Regions from separate parts of the Homo sapiens genome. Here all the other regions are linked to region 3. Evidence: fine-mapped expression QTL. A gene starts in region 3. Each other region holds a variant in brackets. All regions are shown on one strand. Distances are between the middles of the regions.

Region 1 (5,281 bases), 34 kb before region 3:
GTGTCTTAAATATTTTATCATAAATTTAAAAAAAATCAGTGCTGGGTAAAAAGATGTATGTATAAGAATGCTCATTGCAGGGTTATTTACAGCATTCGAAATATTTCAAACTACCTGAGTGACCAAGAACAGAAAATTAATTGAATAAATTATGGTGCAGTAAAAAACCCGAAGGTAATATTGTTAATATTACTATTATTGTCCTATGAACCTGAAGTCACCTACTTTCATTGAGCTAGCTGCTGCATCTAACTATTTATAATAGAAAATTAGTGCCCACAGAAAGACAAATAGGGCAGGGCCTGACTTATATGCAGAATCTAAAACAGTGAACTCCTAGGAGCAGAGTAGAATAATGATTACCGGAGGCTGGGAAGTGGGGGAAATGGGGAGATATTAGTCAAAGGGTGCAGTTTCAGTTAGACAGGAGGAATACGTTTTTTGAGATCGATTGCATAGCTTGGAGACTATAGTTAATAACAATGTATTATATACTTCATTTGCTAAGAGAGTAAATTTCAAATGTTCTCACCACAAAAAGGGATAAGTATTTGGAGTGATGGATATGTTAATTCGCTTGATTTTACCATTCCACCTTGTATACACATATTGTAATGTCACTTTGTGCTGCATAAATATATACAATTATAATGTCGGTTTACAATAAAATTTAAAAAATGAAAAAAGGTGCCTAACTGAAAATTAGTTTCCTCCCATTTTATTTCCTCCAGTCCTTTTTTTTTTTTTTTTAAAGAGACAAGATGGGTGTGGTGGCTCATGCCTGTAATCCCAGCACTTTGGGAGGCCGAGGTGGATGGATCACCTGAGGTCAGGAGTTCAAGACCAGCCCAACCAACATGGTGAAACCCTGTCTCTAGTAAAAATACAAAATTAGCCAGGCATGGTGGCGCATGCCTGTAATCCTAGCTACTCGGGAGGCTGAGGCAGGAAAATCAGTTGAACCCAGGAGGCGGAGCTTGCAGTGAACTGAGATTGCATTCCAGCTTGGGTAACAAGAATGAAATTCCGTCTCAAAAAAAAGAAAAAAGAAAAAAAAGAGAGAGTCTCACTCTGTAACTCAGGCTGGAGTGCAGTGGTGTGATCATAGCTCACTGCAGCCTCGAACTCCTGAGCTCAAAGCAATCCTCCTGCCTCAGCCTCCTGAGTAGCTGAGACTACAGGTTCTCAGAACCACACCCAGCTAAATTTTTTTTAAAAAAATCTGTAGAGATGATGTCTCACTGTGTTTCCCAGGCTGGTCTCAAACTGCTGGCTTCAAGCGATTCTCCCACCTTGGCCTGCGATTACAGGCATGAGCCACTGAGCCCCGCCTCTAGTACTTTCTTAAATCCATGATTAGTGTAAATGTACTTACTAGGTGACTATTCCTGAGGATTTAGAAATGTCAGTCAACATTATATATCTTACCATAATATATAATAATATTTAATACTTAAACAAGAATATGTTAATGAAGGAAAAATTTGAAAGGCCCGAATAAGGCCACCTCTTATCATGATCCATAAAATGCAGCCTTTAGCATACTGACCTCTTTACTTGCCAGACAGCCAGGGCTAGATTTAGGTTTATTTTTGTTTGCTTTGTCTTATCAAATTGCTCAACTAAGGTAATCATTTCTCACTTATTAGACTCTCCCACAGATATTATACAGTGAGAGACCCAGCCTGTCCCTCCTGTTGGTACATTCTACCCAAGAATTCTAAGGAACATAACTTTCTAGTTAATGATAAATGACAATGGACTTTCTGCTCTATTCTTTGGTGCTTAAATTGTTATTTTTGCTGCCTAATGTGAATTTTTTTCTATTAAAACAATTGAAAATAACATTATTTTATAAATGTATATGTTGCTGATGCAGATATGGCTACAAGCCACTAGGTATCCTAGCTGTGAATTGCAGAATCATTTCAGAGGAACAGGGGACAGGCTCTAAGCAGAATGACGACCTAGTAGGGACAATGGATTTGTGGTCATTAGCCTCTGTACTCCTCGTTCTGCCTTGATTGCTTCCATGGCTTGGTGACTTCTCTCTCGAACCTTCAGAGAAAGGACCTGATATAGTTTGGATATTTGTCCCTGCCCAAATCTCCTCTTGAATTGTAATCCCCAGTACCGGAGGCGGAGCCTTGTGAGAGGTAATTGGGTCATGGGGGTGGATTGCTCATAAATGGTTTAGCACCATCTGCTTGGTGCTGTCCTTGTGATAGGGAGGTCTTGTAAGATCTGGTAGTTTAAAAGTGCGTGGCACCTCTCCTGTCCCTTGCTCCTGCCTTCACAGTGACATGCCTGCTCCGCCTTCACCCTCTGCTATGATTATAAGCTTCCAGAGGCCTTCCCACAAGCTGAGCAGATGCCAGCATCATGCTTCCTGTACAGCCTGCAGAACCATGAGCCAATTAAACCTCTCTTCTTATAAATTACCCAGTCTCAGGTATTTCTTTATAACAATGCAAGAACAGCCTAATAGGGACCCAACACAGCTTTGCAGGAATAGGAACATATGTACTGCTTCTCCAAGGAGGGTTTGCATTTCAAATGTTATCTCAAACTGTAGAAATGCTTATTCTCTATTAATAAACTGGAAGCAAGAAGAGGAGCTATATTTCAGGAGTGGGAAGAACTATAAAACCCTTAAATCATTCATCCTTTGGACAAGACTTGCAACTGCATTCAGTTTTATACGGTCGTTTATGTAGCTTTTGTGTACTGTTTTAAGTGCAGAAACTTGTAAGTTCCAAGGATACATAAAATACATAATTTTCAAAGTCTGTACCTATAAGGCATGCACGGGAAAATAAATCATCAGTAAAAAGTAAGTATGAAGTTTGGAATGAATTAGAAACAAATTTTTTATACCACATTTCATCAGCACAAAGGTGACCCATGTTAATTTTAATAAGACAGTCCTCCTTTACCATAAAATGCCCTTCACCTTTTTTGAAACTTAAGTAGGGTACATATATATTGTTTGATAATCTGACTTAACTCCACTTATTAGTAGGTCTCATAGACATTCCCTTGTTCTTTTTGACAGCATTACCTCCTTTTAAGAAATTCTCCACAAACCGCAGCATCTAATCCTGGGTTTCACTGTCTCCTCTGCACATTCTTATCACCCCAGCTCCTTGTCATTACAATAACATGTTTCTCAGGATGAAACATGATATGGTTTGCCTGAATCCCCACCCAAATCTCAAAT[G/T]GTAGCTCCCATAGTTCCCACGAGTCGTAGAAGGGACCAGTGGGAGGTAATTGAATCATGGAGCCAGGTCTTTCTCATGCTGTTCTCGTGGTAGTGAATACGTCTCACGAAATCTAACGGTTTTATAAAGGGCAGTTCCCCTGCACATGCTCTCTTGCCTGCCACCATGCAAGACGTGACTTTGCTCCTCCTTTGGCTTCTGCACGATTGTGAGGCCTCCCTAGCCATGTGGAACTGTGAGTCAATTAAATTTCTTTCCTTTACAAATTACCCAGTCTTACGTATGTCTTTATTAGCAGCGTGAGAACAGACTAATACAAAATGGTTTCTCTTACTACTTGATATGGTTTGGATGCTTGTCCCCTCCAAATTTCATGTTGAAATTTGAAATATGATCCCCAGTGGTGGGAGGTGACTGGATCATAAGGGCAGATCCCTTCTGAGTGGTTTGGCACCATCCCCTTGGTGATGAGTGAGTTCTTGCTCAGTTAGTTCACACCAGATCTGGTTGTCTAAAAGCCTGGGACATCCCCCTGCCCTCTTGCTCCTGCTCTCATCATGTGACATGCCTCCTCCCCCTTCACCTTCCACCTTGATTGGAAGCTTCCTGAGGCCCTCACCCCATGCAGATGCTGACACCATGCTGCTTGTACAGCCTGCAGAACCATGAGCCAATTAAACCTCTTTTCCTTATAAATTACCCAGCCTCAGGTATTCCTATATAACAATGCAAAAATGGTCTAATACACTACTGTCTCCCAGAAACTCTTAACTCTTTTTTTTTTTAAATTTTAATTCTTGAAGTCTTTTTTTTTTTTTTTTTTGAGACGGAGTCTCACTCTGTCAGGCTGGAGTGCAGTGGCATGATCTCGACTCACTGCAACATCCGCTTCCCAGGTTCAAGTGATTCTCCTGCCTTGGCCTCCCAAGTAGCTGAGATTACAGGCATGTGCCACCACATCTGGCTAATTTTTGTATTTTTAGTAGAGATGAGGGTTCACCATGTTGGCCAGGCTGGTCTCGAACCCCTGACCTCAGGTGATCTGCCTGCTTCAGCCTCCCAAAGTGCTGGGATTATAGGCATGAGCCACCATGCCTGGCCAAAGTCTTGTTTTGATACAAACATTACTTTTTCTATTTCCCCAACTTAACTAGTAGAATGATGATCTCCTGACATCTGTAACTCAAGTTGACTTTTTTTTACCTTCCATAAGTTTTTATTTACATACCCTTATTGAGATTTCCAAATTCTGTTCACTTATTACCTCCTGAAATTGGCCATTTTGTTTATCACAGTTTCCCCAGTACCTAGCAAAGTGCCTAGCACGTTGTAGGAGAGCAATACTTATCTGAGAGAATGTACCCCTAGAGAACGAAGTAGCACCTAAAATATATTGAGCACCTACTTTGTGCAAAGTACTCTAAGTAATTTACAGTTAACCCTCCCAACAACTTTAGAAGGAAGGATATGTTATCATCTTCAGTTTACAGATGAAAAGTGAAGAGGTTCAATAACATGCTGCCCTGGTCACTCAGCTAGCAAATAGTAGTGATGTGGTTAAAATAAAGGCATCACGACTTCAAAGCCAGCCTTCTTAATCGCTATTCTTTATATACAGCCTCCTAGAAGGCACTGAATGCCTTCTCCTTCCTCTTTCTTTCTGATTTCCATGTCCATTTCCTCCCTTTTCCCCATAACATTGGACATTTCCAAGTTGATCTGTATCTATCTTCAAGAAAAAAAAAATGAAGTTTTATTCTTACCCCAAATCGCTGGGGTAAAGATATAAAAAGACCTCAACTGCAAGAGATTCCAACATCTGAGAATGACTTTGGAAGAATCCCTTGCCTCTCTGGACTCCCAGCACGCCCTGAAACCCCAGCCTGAGCACACCCTTTGCAAAGTCATAAAAGCAGGGCTGAGAACAGCTATCTGAGACCTTGGCTCATGGACTGCATCTCATTTGCTTTGGCTGTTGATTTGGGCCATTGCCTGTGTGGGACTTTGTTTCTCATCAGCAGCTTCTGCTTGGTGTGAACTCCACGACTGGGGCTTGGTTT
Region 2 (5,281 bases), 22 kb after region 3:
TTTGGGAGGCCAAGACAGGAGGACTGCTTTAGCCCAGGAGTACGAGACCAGCCTGAGCAACAAAGTGAGACCCTATCTCTATAAAAAATTTTTTTTAATTAGCTAGGTGTGCTGATGCACATCTGTGGTCCCAGCTATATGGGAGGCTCAGGTGGGAGGATCACCTGAGCCCAGGAAGTTGAGGCTGCAGTGAGCTATGATTGCATCACTGCACTCCAGCCTGGGTGGCAGAGGGAGACCCTGTCTCAAAAAAAGAGGAAAAAAAAAAAAAAAAGGAATGCAGGGTTTTGCAAAAGCTTTAAAAACTCGGTCCAATGAGAGTTCTGGAGGACAGTTCTGGAGAACTAGGAGTCCAACATCAAGATGTCAGAGGATTAGTTGATTTTTGCTTTTCTTTTTTAGGAGTATTTTTGTTTGTTTTTATTTTTGGAGATAGGGTCTATGTTGCACAGGCTGGAGTGTGTGGTGGCTATTCACAGGCATGATGAAAGCACACTGCAGCCTCACACTCCTGGCTTCAAGCAATCCTCCTGCCTCAGCCTCCCAAGTAGCTGGGACTGCAGGCATGCAACACCACACGCAGCAGGGTTGGTTTCTTCTAAAGCATCTCTCATTGGCTTGTAGATGGTTATCTTTTCTCTGTATCTTTACGTGTTCTTCCTTATATGTATGTCTGTGTTCAAATTTCCTCTTCTAAGGACACCAGTCATATTGGATCAGCGCCTTCTCTAATGACCTCATCTTGACTTAATTACCTCTTTAAAGACCTTTCTACAAATACAGTTATATTCTGAGATACTGGGGGTTAGGGCTTCAACATATGAATTCTAGGAGGACATAACTCAGCCCCTAACAAGAGGCTAATCCAGTTCATAGACTTTTAACTGTAAGTATTGGCTTTGCTGATAATAAAAGTTATATAAACTAATAAAAAAGGTCAAATGATGCAGAAATGAATAAAGTCAGTCCTTAGTAATTGTGATGGGGTTAAAATTGGAAAAGGCATTTTCAAGACAGTTGTTGCTTTCAGTTCTTAAAAATAAATTATTTCACATTTTTGCATTGTGGCAAACCATTTGGCTATATTAAAATAGATCAATGGGAATGATCAAACTGAAGAGGCTGTGTAAAAACGGCCAATAAGCAAGAAATACTTCTTCCTTGTATTTATATACTGTTCATATATATATATATACACACACACACACACACACATATATGATCTTTTTTGAGACAGAGTCTCACTCCGTCACCCAGGCTGGAGTACAATGGCATGATCTCGGTTCACTGCAACCTCCGCCTCCCAGGCTGAAGCAATCCTCCCACCTCAGCCTCCTGAGTAGCTGGGACTAAGGGTGCACACTATCATGCTTGGCTAACTTTGCATTTTTTGCAGAGATGGGGTTTCACTGTGTTGCCGAGACTGGTCTCAGACTCCTGAGCTCAAGCGATCTGCCCACGTCACCGTGGGCCACCGTGCCCGGCCTCCTCAACATATTAATTGATTATGTTGCCCTTAATTTATTTCCATTTTAATTACTGACTTTTTTTCTTTTTAAAAAATTATTTTATTGAGGCCTGATTGACAGGTAAAAAGCTGTGCATATTTAATGTCTACAAGTCAATGAGTTTGGGGGTAAGCATAAACTTCTATCTTAAATATTTAAATATATTATGACTGCAACTTCAATATACAAGTGGTGAAATATCTGGATATTATAAATAGCACTGAGTAGCAGTGTTTGTAGTTTAATATTAACAAAGAAATGTTATATTTAACAGAAAAAAACTTTGATCGGAACGTGCCCAAAAAGCCTGCTGTGCCATTGAAGACTGATCATCCTGTCATGGGAATACAGAGTGGAAAAAATTTTATAAATACAAATGCAGCTGATATCATCATGGGAGTGGCTAAAAAGCCTAAACCAATTTATGTTGATAAAAGAACTGGAGACAAGCATGATCTTGAGCCTTCAGGACTAGTTCCAAAGTACATCAATAAAAAGGTAGCCTTGTGGTATATTAATAAGAGGGCTGAAATTCAAATAATTTAAATATGGTGTTCATGATGATCATCTATGTTATCATTATTAGTGCTCTCATTGGACACATTGTCTACTTTGCTGATTCTCATTCTTCTGCAATCTGTGTTTGGTCCAAATGTAATGGGATGAAGTTACAAAGAACCCATAGTAAACAATTCCATATAGTTCAGTAGATAAAAGTTATTGTTTTCCTTAATTTTGATTATTAACATATTTAACAATTTTAATAAACATTCTCTGAAAGATATTTTTGGTTAGTTGGAAATGTCACTAAAAGCAGTCATTACTGTAAATCTAGAAGGAATAAGCTGTCAGATGGTCTTAAGATTTAGTCATTAATTGCAGTAACTTGGCAGCTGAATAAGAAAAATGAAGCAGAATGCAGCTTTAGAGCCATCCATCTCATCAGTGTAGTATAAATAATTCACATTCCTATTTTAACATGAATATATTTATTTGGTTTTGGTTTTGGGTAAAGACTTGAAAGTACTGTACAATAATCTAGTCCTTTTGGGTCCTTCATTTGTATCTGAAAAGGTGTGTAATTTCATTGGTGAACATTATAGTTTAAATATAGATTTTTTTTGAGACATATTCTCATGCTGTTTCCCAGGCTGGAGTACAATGGTGCAATCTCAGCTCACTGCAACTTCCAACTTCCGGCTCGAGTGATTCTCCTCACTCAGCCTCCCAAGTAGCTGGAATTACAGGCATGCATCACCAGGCCTGGTTATTTTTTTGTATATTTAGTAGACAGGGGGTTTCACCATGTTGGCCAGGCTGGTCTTGACTCCTGACCTCAAGTGATCCACCCACCTCAGCCTCCCAAAGTGCTGGGATTGCAGACATAAGCCACTGCACCCAGCCAAATACAGATCTTTAAAATAAAAAAGCTTACAAAAAATCTTATTTAATGCTACTTTATTTTGCGCACTTATAAAGCTTAAAAGTGCTTGAAACACACAAAATATGAATGCAGGCTGGGCACAGTGGCTCACAACTGTAATCCCAGCACTTTAGAAGGCCAGGAGGATTGCTTGAGGTCAGGAGTTCAAGTCCATCTTGGCCAACATGGTGACACCCCATCTCTACTAAAAATACAAAAATTAGCCAGGCGTGGTGGTGTGTGCCTGTAATCCCAGCTACTCGGGTGGCTAAGGCACGAGAATCGCTTGATCCCAGGAGGCGGGGGTTGCAGTGAGCCAAGGTCGCGTCACTGCACTCCAGCCTGGGTGACAGAGCGAGACTCGGTGTCAAAAAAAAAAAAAAAGAGTGCAGAATTCTAAA[G/T]AATAATAAGTTGCATCAAGAAGAAATGAAGGAAGGGAGGGAGAAAGGAAAGGAAGGAAGGAAAAAGGAAGAGAGAGATAAAGAAAAAGGAAGAGAGATAAAGAAAAAAAGAAAAGAAATTGCAATAGTGATGTACAGGGACCTAAAATTGAAGAGTCCAGTGATCTACCATGATAAATCCAATGCCAGTGGAAAATCAAAACAGGACCCTCAAGGCTGTTTTCAGAGGACACTGTCTTCTCAGGAATCTAGGAGTTCCCAGGATAAGCCAATAAAGTTACTTCAGGCTTCTCCAGGTACTTCCTCCTTCTGTGGCCCCTGGAAACTGTTTTATAGTCGTTGTCCCACAGGATAGGGAAAAGTGGAAAACTCACTCTCATGGCTCTTAAAGCCACTTCCAGTCCATTATTTCTCCATGATCATATGAAAAGTCTTTACTGGTCATGCCACCACCTGTCACACACTCTGCCCCTCCCTTCTGGCTGCTCTCTAAGCTGTCCACTTGAATGCATTTTCTACCTTCAACAGGAAATTTGGAGTATCCATCATGGAAACAGAAAAATACCAGAGTTTACCAAACCATGAAAGCACTGTGCACCTAATGCCCTTTTGGTGTTGCTGACTAAGCAATCAGTGCTCATGAAAGACTTACTCAATTTACTTTTCCCTTATCAGAGTTAAGTTTTAAAGATCTATCATTGGTAGGTGAGATAGTAAATAAATTCTTTTAAAGTCAATGTCATATTTTTATAAAATGAGTGAACTCCCATTTCAGCTCCAAGTGAATTATATGCCATTCATACCATGAGAAACAATTTCTGAAAACAAGCAAGGATAGATGATCACATGAGGTATTTAGCAATACCAGTAAAGACATTCTTTCAAAGTCTAACTCTGCCACTTAGTAACTGTGATTTCCAACAATCCATTGGATTTATCACAGGGTTGTAGTGAGGATTAAATTATATAAAGTATATTGAGCACTTGACACAAAATGTGACACCTAATAAAAGAACAAAGAGTGAATAGTATAATATATGCAATTTTATTAACAGTATGCATTAGCCTCCGGTGATTCAGCCCATAGGAATATTTCAGATCATTGAAGCTTTTGCTCATTTGTGAGTTTTTTTTCTGAACTGTATCACACCATTCCCTTTCTTTTTAAAAACACTTAATTTAATTTTTTTTAGAGATGGAGTCTCACTATGTTGCCCAGGCTGGTCTTGAACTTTTGGGCTCAAGCAGTTCTCCTGCCTAGCTGTCCCAAAGTGCTGGGGTTACAGGCTTGAGCCACTGCGCCCAGTCATTCTCTTTCTTAAACAGAGTATGCCAAATATAATTTAATCTTTCTGTGATCCTGCAGAATCATCATGATGAAGCTCCATTATTGTACTAAGCTGTAATGAGGTGTTTCCTTCAGTGTTTCCTGAAGTGGATTGGCCTGTCTCACTCACTGCACCAGCTGACCAGAATACTGGCCTCCCAGAGTCTATTTGTATTGTCCTCTGCAGCTTCCAGAACACATTTATATCTAGGATTTCTATCCCTTGTTCAGTCAGGATGGGTTAAGTTACACTGTGATGACAAACAATCCCCAAATTTCAGTAACTTAAAGCAACAAAGTGTTATTGTTTGCTTTTGCCACGTGCCCTTTGAGGGTTGTTACAGGCTCTGCTTCTTGTCCTTCTTCCAGGACCCAGAAAAATCTAAACATTGCTTGTCACTAGACCAGACAGGAAAAGACACAGCAAGTCATCCACTAATTCTTAAGACTCCTATCGAGAAGTGGCAGAGGTCACCTCCACTGACACTGAGCAATTCAGGGCATATGGCTACATCTTACTTTATGAGGACAACACAGGAAAGTGTTGTCCTACCAAGTGTCTAGAAGGAGAACAGAATATTTGTCAGAATTTTAATGACTACCATACCTCCCAACTGCTGCT
Region 3 (5,281 bases):
TCCCACTCTGTTGCCCAGGCAGGAGTGCAGTGGCACAATCTTGGCTCACTACAGCCTTGACTTCCTAGGCTCAAGCAATCCTCCCACCTCAGCCTCCCAAGTAGCTGGGACTAAAGGCACGCACCACCACACCCAGCTAATTTTAGTATTTTTAGTAGAGAGGGGGTTTCGCCATGTTGCCCAGGCTGGTCTCCAACTCCTGGGCTCAAGCAGTCTTCCTGCCTTGGCCTTCAAAAAGTGCTTGGATTGCAGGTATGAGCCACTGTGCCCAACTAAAATTTTAAAATATTTTCAATCTGTAATTAGTTGAATCTGAGAATGGGAAATTCACAGATATGGAGAACTAACTGTGTATCAGGACACAAACTAGCCAAAAGGAGGTTAAGCTCTACTGCTTCTGACTTCTGACCAAAAATTCTCTCAAACTTTTCATTCAGAGGGCCTCCCACTTGCCATGAAACAGAGGTGAGGGTGGAAGGACCACACAATCCAGTATAGTTCTGTAATCACAAGGATCTCACAACTAAAACAATTTTGCAAGTTCATCACTTAGTCTTTATATTACTATCAAAGCTGACTAAGCTTTTTCTGCCGTTAGACTTCTGCTGTTAGACATATTCTTAACGATCTCGAATATTTAATTGAAAACTTTAGTATCCACAATTCTATAACTTTGAGAATTATAAAGAACCTGTCTTTATAAAGGGTTTATTTACCTTCCAATTGTCTTATATACTCATCTACACCCATTTTATTCATTTAAATAGATTAAAATAATCCTTCGCAAAAAAAAAAAAAAAAAAAACAACTCTCATTTGTTTATGTACATCACAGGCATACCATTATATACGGGGATCTAGGATCTGTGCAAACTACAATCCACAGGCTAAATCTGGCCCACCATCATTTTCATAAATCAAGTTTCTTTGAAGCACAACTTCAGTCATTCATGTGCTCACATATTTGTTCAGTACCGTCTTTGGCTGCTTTTGAGCTACAATGGCAAAACTGAGTAGTTGCAACATAACCACTTGGCCTAAAAAGGCCTGAAATATTTACTGTCTACCCCTTTATAGACAGTTTGTTCATCCCTGTAGGTATATACCAGTTAATTCCCTGTGGACATGCGGTGGACACAGGCATTTTTTTGAAGTGTCATTTCAAGAGCATTATAAAAACTAGAAATAATTTTGCTTAAACACACTTTCAAAAGGCAAGGAGAATTGCAGATCAAATGTCTAAGAAAAAAGAAAAGTTTTTTTCCAAATGATTTAACAACCTGCTCATGGCTGTAAACTAACTATACCACAGTGAGGTCTTGCACAAATTGTTTAGCATTTTTTAAAGCATAATAAATATACAGACATCAGTGAAATTATTTTATTTCAGTAACCCCAGAACATCAAGGCTACCAAAGGCCAGTTGGTGCTAACTGCAGAAATCATGTTTTGCCCTTACTTGCTATTTCAGGAACTGATTAACACAAATAGTCTCAAGGTGTTCCTTCTAATTAGAAAATTCATAAGCTTTAGCCAGTGACTATCCACTTGGCTAATGGCGTTATCATTCCATGAGTCCTTGGTTCGAATCTTCGTACATACAGGAGGTTTCCCGCCAAATTTTTTCTCTATACTTGCTAAACAGAAATCCCAAACATAAAATACTCAAGGGCGAAAAGAAAGGGGCAAAGTGATATAGATTTGGATCTAGATCTAAATATAGATCTACAGATCCATCTATCTAAAATGTTTTGGAAGACAATCTGATGTGAAGAAATCTGGAGAATTTTCCCTAAGCGTCTGGGACAAAAATTAAAATCAACTGTATACAAAAAAAAAAAAAAGAAAAACTTAACGTATTCTTATGTAGTGAAATTCAGTAAGAGCCCAAAGTAAGGACCTACACATTCAGTAAAGCCTTTTTATACAGGAACTAAAAGGTTCACCAGGCCATTGTGTTGTTTTAATCACTCCGCCAGCCAACCAGGCAGTGAGAAACCCAGACTCAAGTGTGTTTTCTCTCCTCTCCGGGAAGCTTTATTTCCTTCGGGCAGAGTGGCCTCTGTACCGGTGGTTCAGAGGCATCCATCTTCCTCCCCAAATCCTATTACCAAAATGTCTTTTAAACACTCGGGTAAAAGCGTCTAAATGACTTTCCTACGGCAGGCCCATGTGCATAGATTTACGGGTGACCAGGTGGAACAAAAAGGAATAAAACCGCTTCTCAGAAGACAATTTTCCAACAAGGGACACCAAAAACTGGACAAAAACGTAAAGGCCCACTTAAAAGGCTTCTCCTCTTAGTTTAGGCTGCTCATTTACAAAGAGCAGGTCCACTGGTTCCTGGAGAACGACCTAGAGGAAGAGTCCCGACCCGGGGAAGAGCAGGCGCAGAGCCGACCCGGAGGACCGCCCAAGGGGCGGTCCCGGGAGCAGGGGCGGGAGGGCGAGCGCAGCAGGCGGAGGAGGCCGCGGGCCCCGTGCGCGCACTCACACACGTGGCGGGCAGGGCTGCGCGGCGTTCCGAGGAGCCTCGACCAGAAGCAGCAGGAAAAATGCGCGCAGAGTTGAGATGACCAGCGAGTAGCGGAAAGGGGAAGGGACGGTACGGGGAAAGGCATGCGATGGGAGCGGGCTGGCTTCTAGTTTTCCTTCCTTTCTCCTCCAATAACTCACCAAGGAAATCTCACTGAGAAGACGGGGGAAATGAAAGGAAATGGGGGAGCAGTGTCCACGAGCCGCTAAAGCCTCCACAGGAGACGGAGCACCGTACCTGCAGCTAGCTCCCCGGTCCCGCCCCCGCGCAGTGGACTCTGCGCCTGTGCCTGCGGCGGCCAGCGTGCCTCCGCTCCACGCCCTTCCCCGAGCGGCCTCGCGCAGGGCACGTGACTCTCCTTTCTCACTGTAGCCTATCCGAGCACTCCGATCTCCTCAGGCTCCTCCCCTCCCTCGTCTCCCTGGCGGCGCTGGCCTTGCGTCCTCGTGGTCTCAGCCGCTCGCTCCGCCCACACCGCGATTGGGGCCTGCTCACAAAAACCTTATTGGGTGACGCCTGCGCACCAGCTGCGCTTTGCCGTCTCTACTAGGATTTTTCTTTTTTCCCCAGATACACAGAAATAGAAAAGAGCACAGTTTTTAAGGGGACATCATTTTCACCCCGTTAACTTTCAAAGGCACGTAAAAACAGTGGCTTCCAAATGAGCTTCTCTAGCAGAAGGCGCTGCAGAAAGAGGGAAGAGGGGAGACCTAGTTTGCGGTGCTGCCTGCCACTTCCTCGTTGCCTAGTAACGGTTTCCACGGCAACCGCACAGTCAACGACGCTTAGCAATCCGGAGAGAAATAGGGTGTTTTCTTCCCGAGAGAGGACTGCTAAGAGGGGGTTAAAGGGGGACGATGTGAAGGAGAGAACCTGTGGTCCTTCAGAAGGCGAAGAAGAAAGAAAGGGGAAGCAGTGAAGAAAGGGACGGAGATACTGGGACAGGGAGAAAAAAGTTGTGGAGAGTAGCTTTTAAGGAGTCATTTGGTGGCCATGGATCCAACGTGCTCTTCTGAGTGCATTTATAACCTCATACCCAGTGACTTGAAGGAGCCTCCCCAGCCTCCTAGGTATGTGGATAAGCAAAGACTATCACTTGAAACAAGAATGGGGAATACTCAGTATTAATTAAGCATACATATACTGGAATTTTTAATAATAAATAAAATGTATTTTTGCCTCGATGAAGTAGCCTTGGAGGATAACTTGTTAGAGAAAAGGTCGAAATATCTAGGTATTCAGCATCTCACAGTTTTACAGAGAGGGCAGTCTGGCGCTGTGAGATGACCATTTTATTATATTACACTTAACCTCTTATTAATACGGTATGTGATTATTGTGTAATTTAATTATATGTGATATACAGCATAGTATGAAGTTTCATGTTGAAAAGAAAAAAATCACAATTCTATTATCTTGTTTAAGGATACTTGATGTTTGGTTTCAGGAGTTCGGTGTTGTATTTCTAACTGCACTACTCCCTCTCTAATGGGATAGGATAGGACTTTTCCCCCAAGATTTTTATGAAATATAAATTTACATTTGCTTTTGAGCCTCAGGTTTTTGATCAGTGAAACGAAATATCTACCACTATTAGGCAGTTTCTAAGGACTTTTTCAGATCTAATGGTTTAAATGGAAGGAAGAATTGGTGGATAGATAATGAACCAAAAAATATGTAATTGAGTTGAAATTTTACATAGGTCTTAGAACCTCTTAAATTCTCCAAATCTCAAAAACGTGCAAAGGAAGCACTTCAGTTACTCCCATCTGTAGGGACTTCTTAGAACTTACTTAAATCTGTGGGGAGCAAAGAAAGTAGTGGAGAAAATCTCATTTCTCCTAGGACTTGAAATGTTTCCTGTCTTTTACCATCATCCTTGTCCGTATGCAAGTCAAAACCACATTTGAAAAGGACTGGACTAAAAATCGGGCCTAGCAATTAATTGTCTTTGTGAACTTTAGAATAAAGTTTCATTTGTTTACTGATCTGTGAGATAAATGTACCAGATAATATCCAAGGCCCCTTTTAGATCTAATGGTCAATTATTTTTACTAGTATTAGGGTAATAGCTTCAACAAGTAGGCAGCTTCTTCAATTTTAAGTATCTGGTTTAAATTAGAGCAGTAACTGTATTACATCTCCATTAGCATATCAACATCTAGAGACTGGAAAGAGGAATGTAAAGTAAGTTATGGCACAGTTGCAGAATTTATTTTCAAATTTTCTATTGTTGCACCAACTTTTGGTTTCAAATTCCTGCATATTACATGAGATAAAACTCCTCTATAACAGATTGGTAGATTGTATTTCTATAGAATATTGAATTTGAGAGTTATTTTATTAGGTAGGTATTCTGTTCTTTGGCAAATTAAAAAGCTTTACTGCATCTAGACGATTTTTTTTTTCAAAAAAAATTTATAGGAACAGTCTTTATTCATTTGGCAAGCATTAATGGAGCCCCTATTATGTGTATAATATTGCACTAGTATATCTGTTCTTGGTGCTGTTGGAGTGATAGCACAGACTTCTTGGTTTTACTATGAAGAAATGAGTAGAAGAAAGATTTATGATTAGAGGAAATAGAGGCACCCAAATGTGATGCCAAAAGAATCATTTCTGTTAGGTTAAAGTCAATTTACACTGGCAAGATTCTGACAACTGCCTGGCTTTTGATCTCCCACGCCTCAGAGTTTACCGTCTTTTTGGGGAACTGAAATATGAACACTAAAATTTATCATTGAAA
Region 4 (5,281 bases), 130 kb before region 3:
ATACAAATTTGAAGGGGCCACATTTCAGTCCATAACAATAATGTTACATGCTACTGTGAGATACAGGGAGAACAAAATTTGAGTGAATGGGGACCGGGCACGGTGGCTCACGCCTGTAATCCCAGCACTTTGGGAGGCTGAGGCAGGCGGATCACTGGAGGTCAGGAGTTCGAGACCAGCCTGGCCAACATGATGAAACCCCATCTCTACTAAAAATATGAAAATTAGCCAGGCGTGGTGGTGGGTGCCTATAAACCCACCTACTCGGGAGGCTAAGGCAGGAGAATCGCTTGAACCTGGGAGGAAGAAGATCAGTGAGCCGAGACATTGCACCACTTCACTGCAGGCTGGGTGGCAGAGCAAGACTTCATCTCAAAAAAAAAAAAAAAAAAAAATTGGGTGAATGGGGAGACTTTGGATACGATAGCTGTAGACATTTTGGCTTTAGACCTTCTGATGGTTAATATTGAGTGTCAACTTGATTGGATTGAAGGATGCAAAGTAATGTTCCTGGGTGTGTCTGTGAGGATGTTGCCAAAGGAGATTAACATTTGAGTCAATGGACTGGGAGAGGCAGACCCACCCTCAATCTGGGTGGGCACCATCTAATCAGCTGCCAGCGTGGCTAGGAGAAAAGCAGGCAGAGGAACCTGGAAGGATGAGACTTGCTGGGTCTTCTGGCCTCTATCTTTCTCCCATGCTGGATGCTTCCTGTCCTCAAACATTGGACTCCAAATTCTTCAGCTTTTGGACTCTTGAACTTATACCAGTGGTTTGCCAGGGGTTCTGAGGCCATCTGCCACAGACTGAAGGCTGCACTGTTGGCATCCCTACTTTTGAGGTTTTGGGACTCGGACTGGTTTCCTTGCTTCTCAGCTTACAGACAGCCTATTGTGGGACTTCACCTTGTGATCATGTGGGTCAATTCTCCTTAACAAACTCCCCTTCATATATACAACTATCCTATTAGTCCTGTCACTGTAGAGAACCCTGACCAATACAGACCTGATAGTTGCTTAAATTACAAAAATATCCAATAAAACATTCTGCAATAATGAATATGTTCTCCATCAGCATTGTCCGTTGTGGTAGCCACCGGTCACATGCGGCCATTGAGCATTTCAAAGTGGCTAGTGAGACTGAGGGAGGGAATTTTTAATCATATATACTTTTAATTAAATTTAAATTAAATTGTATTGGGCAGCACAAGTTACAGCTATAGGAACTTTAGGCAAAGGAAGGAGGTTCCGCCAACAGTTAGTCCTTCCAGGCCTTAGACTGGAGACTAAAGTCTTAGACTGTAGATCTACTTTAAACCACCTTTTCTGACAGATAGAAAAGCAAAGCTCTGAAGAGGTGTCTTTTCTAGATTAACACAGCTGGCTACTACAGATCCTTCATAAGGGCTTGAGTATTTTAATGGCAGTGGCCTTGCAACCGGGACTGTTTCGCAGGCAGCTGAAGATGTGTCACACGCATTTAGAGAAATTGTCAAGGACAGAGATAAATGCTCTGGAGTCATCCCGTGGATGGAGTGATGGTTGCAGCCGTGAATGTAGATACAACCTAGGAAGAGAAGAGCGTGGGGCTCTGTATCAAGCCTTAAGAGATACTCGCACCTACATAGAAGGAAAATAAAACAAATCAGACCAGGCGCGGTGGCTCACGTCTGTAATCCCAACACTTTGGGAGGCCAAGGTGGGTGGATTGCTTGAGGTCAGGAGTTCAAGACCAGCCTGGCCAACATGGTGAAACCCTGTCTCTACTAAAAATACAAAAATTAGCTGGGCGTGGTGGGCGCCTGTAATCCCAGCTACCTGGGAAGCTGAGGCAGGAGAATTGCTTGAACCTGGGAGGCAGAGGTTGCAGGGAGCTGAGATCATGCCTGCACTCCAGCCTGGGTGACAGAGCAAGACTCCGTCTCAAAAAACAAAAAAGAATAAAATAAATAAAATAGAGAAAATTATTTTTAAAAATCAGAAAAGGAACAAGCTTTGCCTCTGTCAAATGTATACCAATAATCAGATAGCTCCAGAGTTGCCGCCACCTCACACTTTTAAAATTCATCTCTGAGTGAAAGGCACAATGATAAAAAGTGGGAGCCCTTGCTGGCTTCATGTTCCATCTTTACCATCTATTAGCTGGGTGGCCAGAGTGAAGCACACAACCTCTCTATGCTTTCCTTATGTCAACAAGACATCTACACCCCCATGTTTATTGCAGTAGTAGTCACAACAGCCAAGATATAGAATCAACTCAGGTGTCCAACAACAAATGATACAATAAAGGAAATGTGGTGTATACACAATGGAATACTACTCGGCCATAAAAAAGAATGAGGTCCTGTCAGTTGCTACAGTTTGGATAAAACTGGAGGACATTATGTTAAGTGAAATAAGGCAGGAGCAGAAAGTTAAATACTGCATGTACTCACTCATAGTGGAAGCTAAAAAAAGTTGATCTCATAGAAGTAAGAAAAGAATACCAGAGGCGTGGAAGGGTAGGGGAAAGAAAGGGATAGGGAGAGATTTATCAAAGGATACAAGATTACCACTAGAAAGGAGGAATAAGTTCTAGTGTTCTATTCCATTGTAGGATGACTATGGTTAACAGTAAAATATTATGCAGTTTCAAATAGCTAGAAGGAGGCTGTTGAATGCTCCCAACACAAAGAATTACTATGTACCCCATCAATATGTACAATTATTATTTGTCAATTTAAAATGTTTTAAGATTTTTTTTAAATGGAGGTAATGACAAGGCCTACTTCAGAAAACTGTTAAGATTGAGGTAACAAATAAAATGCCAGCAAAACCCTGGCGTATCATATACATTCTTTATTTTTTCTTTTCATTTCTTTTTCTTTCTTTCTTTCTTTTCGTTTTTGTTTTTGTTTTCTGTCATTGTTAAAATAGAGACGAGGTCTCCCTATATTGTCCAGGCTGGTCTTGAACTCCTGAATTCAAGCAAGCTTTCTGTCTCAATCTCCCAAAGTGCTGAGATTACAGGCATGAGCCGCCACACCCAGCTACAGTCTTTAAACTTTATTTAAAACATAGAAGTTACCATGTCCTTAATCTCATTCGTCTACCCGTGTCCCTGATCGGGAATAATAGC[A/G]TTGCCCTTCACCTAGTCAATATTTTGAGAACCCTGAGTCCATCTTTGATTCCTTCTTCTTCTTCATTCTCCATATACAGTAATTCACTGAGTGTTATTGATTCTAGCTCCACACTGTGTTTTAAATACGGTGACTTCTCCCCGTGACCTCTGCTGCTGCTCTCACTCAACTTCCCAGCACTGTCACCTGGACCACGGTCACGATGGACTTTCCACCAAAAGCGTCACCACTACCAATGTGTTTGTTACATTCACCCATTCTCAACACCATCTCCAGGGTGGTATGCATAAGCCACAGGTCATTTTGCATCCATCCCCCTCTGGCAGTTTCTTTTTACAGACAGGATTAAGTGGAGACCCCTCAATATGGCATTCAAAGCCCTTCACAACCTGGCCCTAACCTATCTCTCCATTTGGAGTCTGTTTTTATATTTCACCTTTTACTTTGAACCAATAATACCTAAATAGGAATCAAGACATTTAAAAATTTCATATGAACAATTGTCTTATGACTGCATGTGGACCTGATAGATGGAAGCAGACTTTCTATTTGCCTCTATAGGGGAAAATGCTCAATTCTTTATTAAACCTTCCAGAGAGAGGCCGGTGCAGTGGCTCACGCCTGTAATCCCAGCACGTTGGGAGAGCAAGGAGGGTGGATCACCTAAGGTCAGGAGTTCGAGACCAGCCTGGCCAACATGGTGAAACCCCGTCTCTACTAAAAATACAAAAATTAGCTGGGCATGGTGGCACATGCCTGTAATCCCAGCTACTCGGGAGGCTGAGGCAGGAGAATCTCTTTAACCCAGGAGGCGGAGGTTGCAGTGAGCCAGGATCACACCACTACACTCCAGCCTGGGTGACAAAACAAGATTTTGTCTCAAAAAAAAAAAAATTCAGAGAGATTCCTCATGAGTACTTCCTGTAAGTAGGGGGATCCCAAGACAGGTGTAAATCCCTTATTTACACCTGTTGATCCTGTATAATTTTTAAGAGTTCCTCCATGTGGAGATAAAAGTGATTCCATCTTTTTTTTTTTTTTGAGGCAGAGTTTTACTCTGTTGCCACGTTGAGTTCGGTGGCACTATCTCAGCTCATTGCAACCTCCTCCTCCTGGTTTCAAGCTATTCTCCTGCCTTAGCCTCCCAAGTAGCTGGGATTACAGGTGCACACCACCATGCCCAGCTAATTTTTGTATTTTTAGTAGAAACAGGGTTTCACCATGTTGGTCAGGCTGGTCTCAAACTCCCAACCTCAGGTGATCCACCCACCTCGGCCTCCCAAAGTGCTGGGATTACAGGCATGAGCCACCGCACCCAGCCGTTGACTCCATCTTAGAGGCTAATCTCCCATGTTGACTTCTGATTATTTCCCGGCTGCATGAACGCCTCCTGATTCATCCTTTATTTACTATCCCTATTGTAAGAACAAATCTACCTTAATGTTATCACACAAATTATAAGTTATGGCACACAGTATAGCATTCTTGCCTGTACTGAAGAGTTGCTTTGCCTTGTCTTGCTGGAGCACAGATACCCTTTCCCTAGAGATATAAGCCCTGGATCTGGGGAATAACAGTGCAGAGGGCCACCTGTCCTGTGGTCACCCAAGACCACACTTGTGTCTGTCAGTTCCCCAATAAAACACCTTTAAGAACACACTGGACTGATGTGCCTCCTTCTTTGGTTTCTCAGCTCCTTTGGCATTTAGGAGTTGCTTTGTATATATGGTCTTTTCATGGAACACCCCATTTTTCATTCTCAAAAGTGTTCTGCTTTGGGCAATATGTTACATAGTTGCCTAGAACTCCCCCTTGCCAAAATAAGTCAATCTGAAGACGTGAAGGACAGTCCCAGAATGAGCGTTCCTATTCTTCCCACCCAGTTGGTTCTGGAAGTCACTCTCCTTTTCTGTCAGCATCTCCTACTTCCTTTTGGAACCCCTTCAGGGCTGCTTAGTCCTTGCTGAAACATCTTTTAAGGTATTGCCTCATATTTTCTCAACTCCTTTATTAAAAAATGCTTCACAGCCCTGTTCACTGAACCTAGCTGATTAGACAAACATAATAGCTGAGAATTGGCTAGATATGCCACTTCCCACAGAGCATGCGTGAATTTTAAAAGGACCTTAAGAGCCCTGACCAAAGGAATGACTAATGGAGGGA

Direction of the effects. Positions count from the first base shown, and alleles are read on the strand shown. Sizes are in standard deviations (SD) of each study's normalised expression. Not every link is listed here.
In carriers of allele G in region 4, the expression in iPS cells of the gene that starts at base 2,853 in region 3 tends to be lower than with A alone (large effect, 0.87 SD a copy in HipSci).

What was found. PIP is the estimated chance that this variant, and not a neighbour inherited with it, causes the effect.
Region 1: its variant is the best candidate, but not a certain one, in a credible set for the expression of THNSL1 in putamen (GTEx, PIP 0.54).
Region 2: its variant is the best candidate, but not a certain one, in a credible set for the expression of THNSL1 in lung (TOPMed, PIP 0.71).
Region 4: its variant is the best candidate, but not a certain one, in a credible set for the expression of THNSL1 in iPS cells (HipSci, PIP 0.54).

The regions. Positions count from the first base shown.
Region 1 is chr10:25,048,547-25,053,827 of GRCh38, reverse strand. It overlaps a transcript of ENKUR not described here. Among named protein-coding and RNA genes, the nearest start is that of THNSL1, 35 kb to the right of the region's middle. The variant G/T (reference allele first, on the strand shown) is at 3,221.
Region 2 is chr10:24,992,371-24,997,651 of GRCh38, reverse strand. It overlaps ENKUR (enkurin, TRPC channel interacting protein), which reads left to right. Exons shown (of 6, transcript NM_145010.4): 3 at 1,783-2,006. It also overlaps a transcript of THNSL1 not described here. Among named protein-coding and RNA genes, the nearest start is that of ENKUR, 21 kb to the left of the region's middle. The variant G/T (reference allele first, on the strand shown) is at 3,333.
Region 3 is chr10:25,014,184-25,019,464 of GRCh38, reverse strand. It overlaps THNSL1 (threonine synthase like 1), which reads right to left and starts at 2,853. Exons shown (of 3, transcript NM_024838.5): 1 at 2,773-2,853. It overlaps ENKUR (enkurin, TRPC channel interacting protein), which reads left to right and starts at 3,307. Exons shown (of 6, transcript NM_145010.4): 1 at 3,307-3,605. The coding sequence starts at 3,529. RefSeq lists enhancers at 2,132-2,211, 2,811-3,105, 2,416-3,178 and silencers at 2,462-2,541, 2,722-2,921, 3,252-3,301.
Region 4 is chr10:25,142,702-25,147,982 of GRCh38, reverse strand. All of the region lies in intron 6 of LINC01516 (long intergenic non-protein coding RNA 1516), which reads right to left. Among named protein-coding and RNA genes, the nearest start is that of GPR158, 30 kb to the left of the region's middle. The variant A/G (reference allele first, on the strand shown) is at 3,118.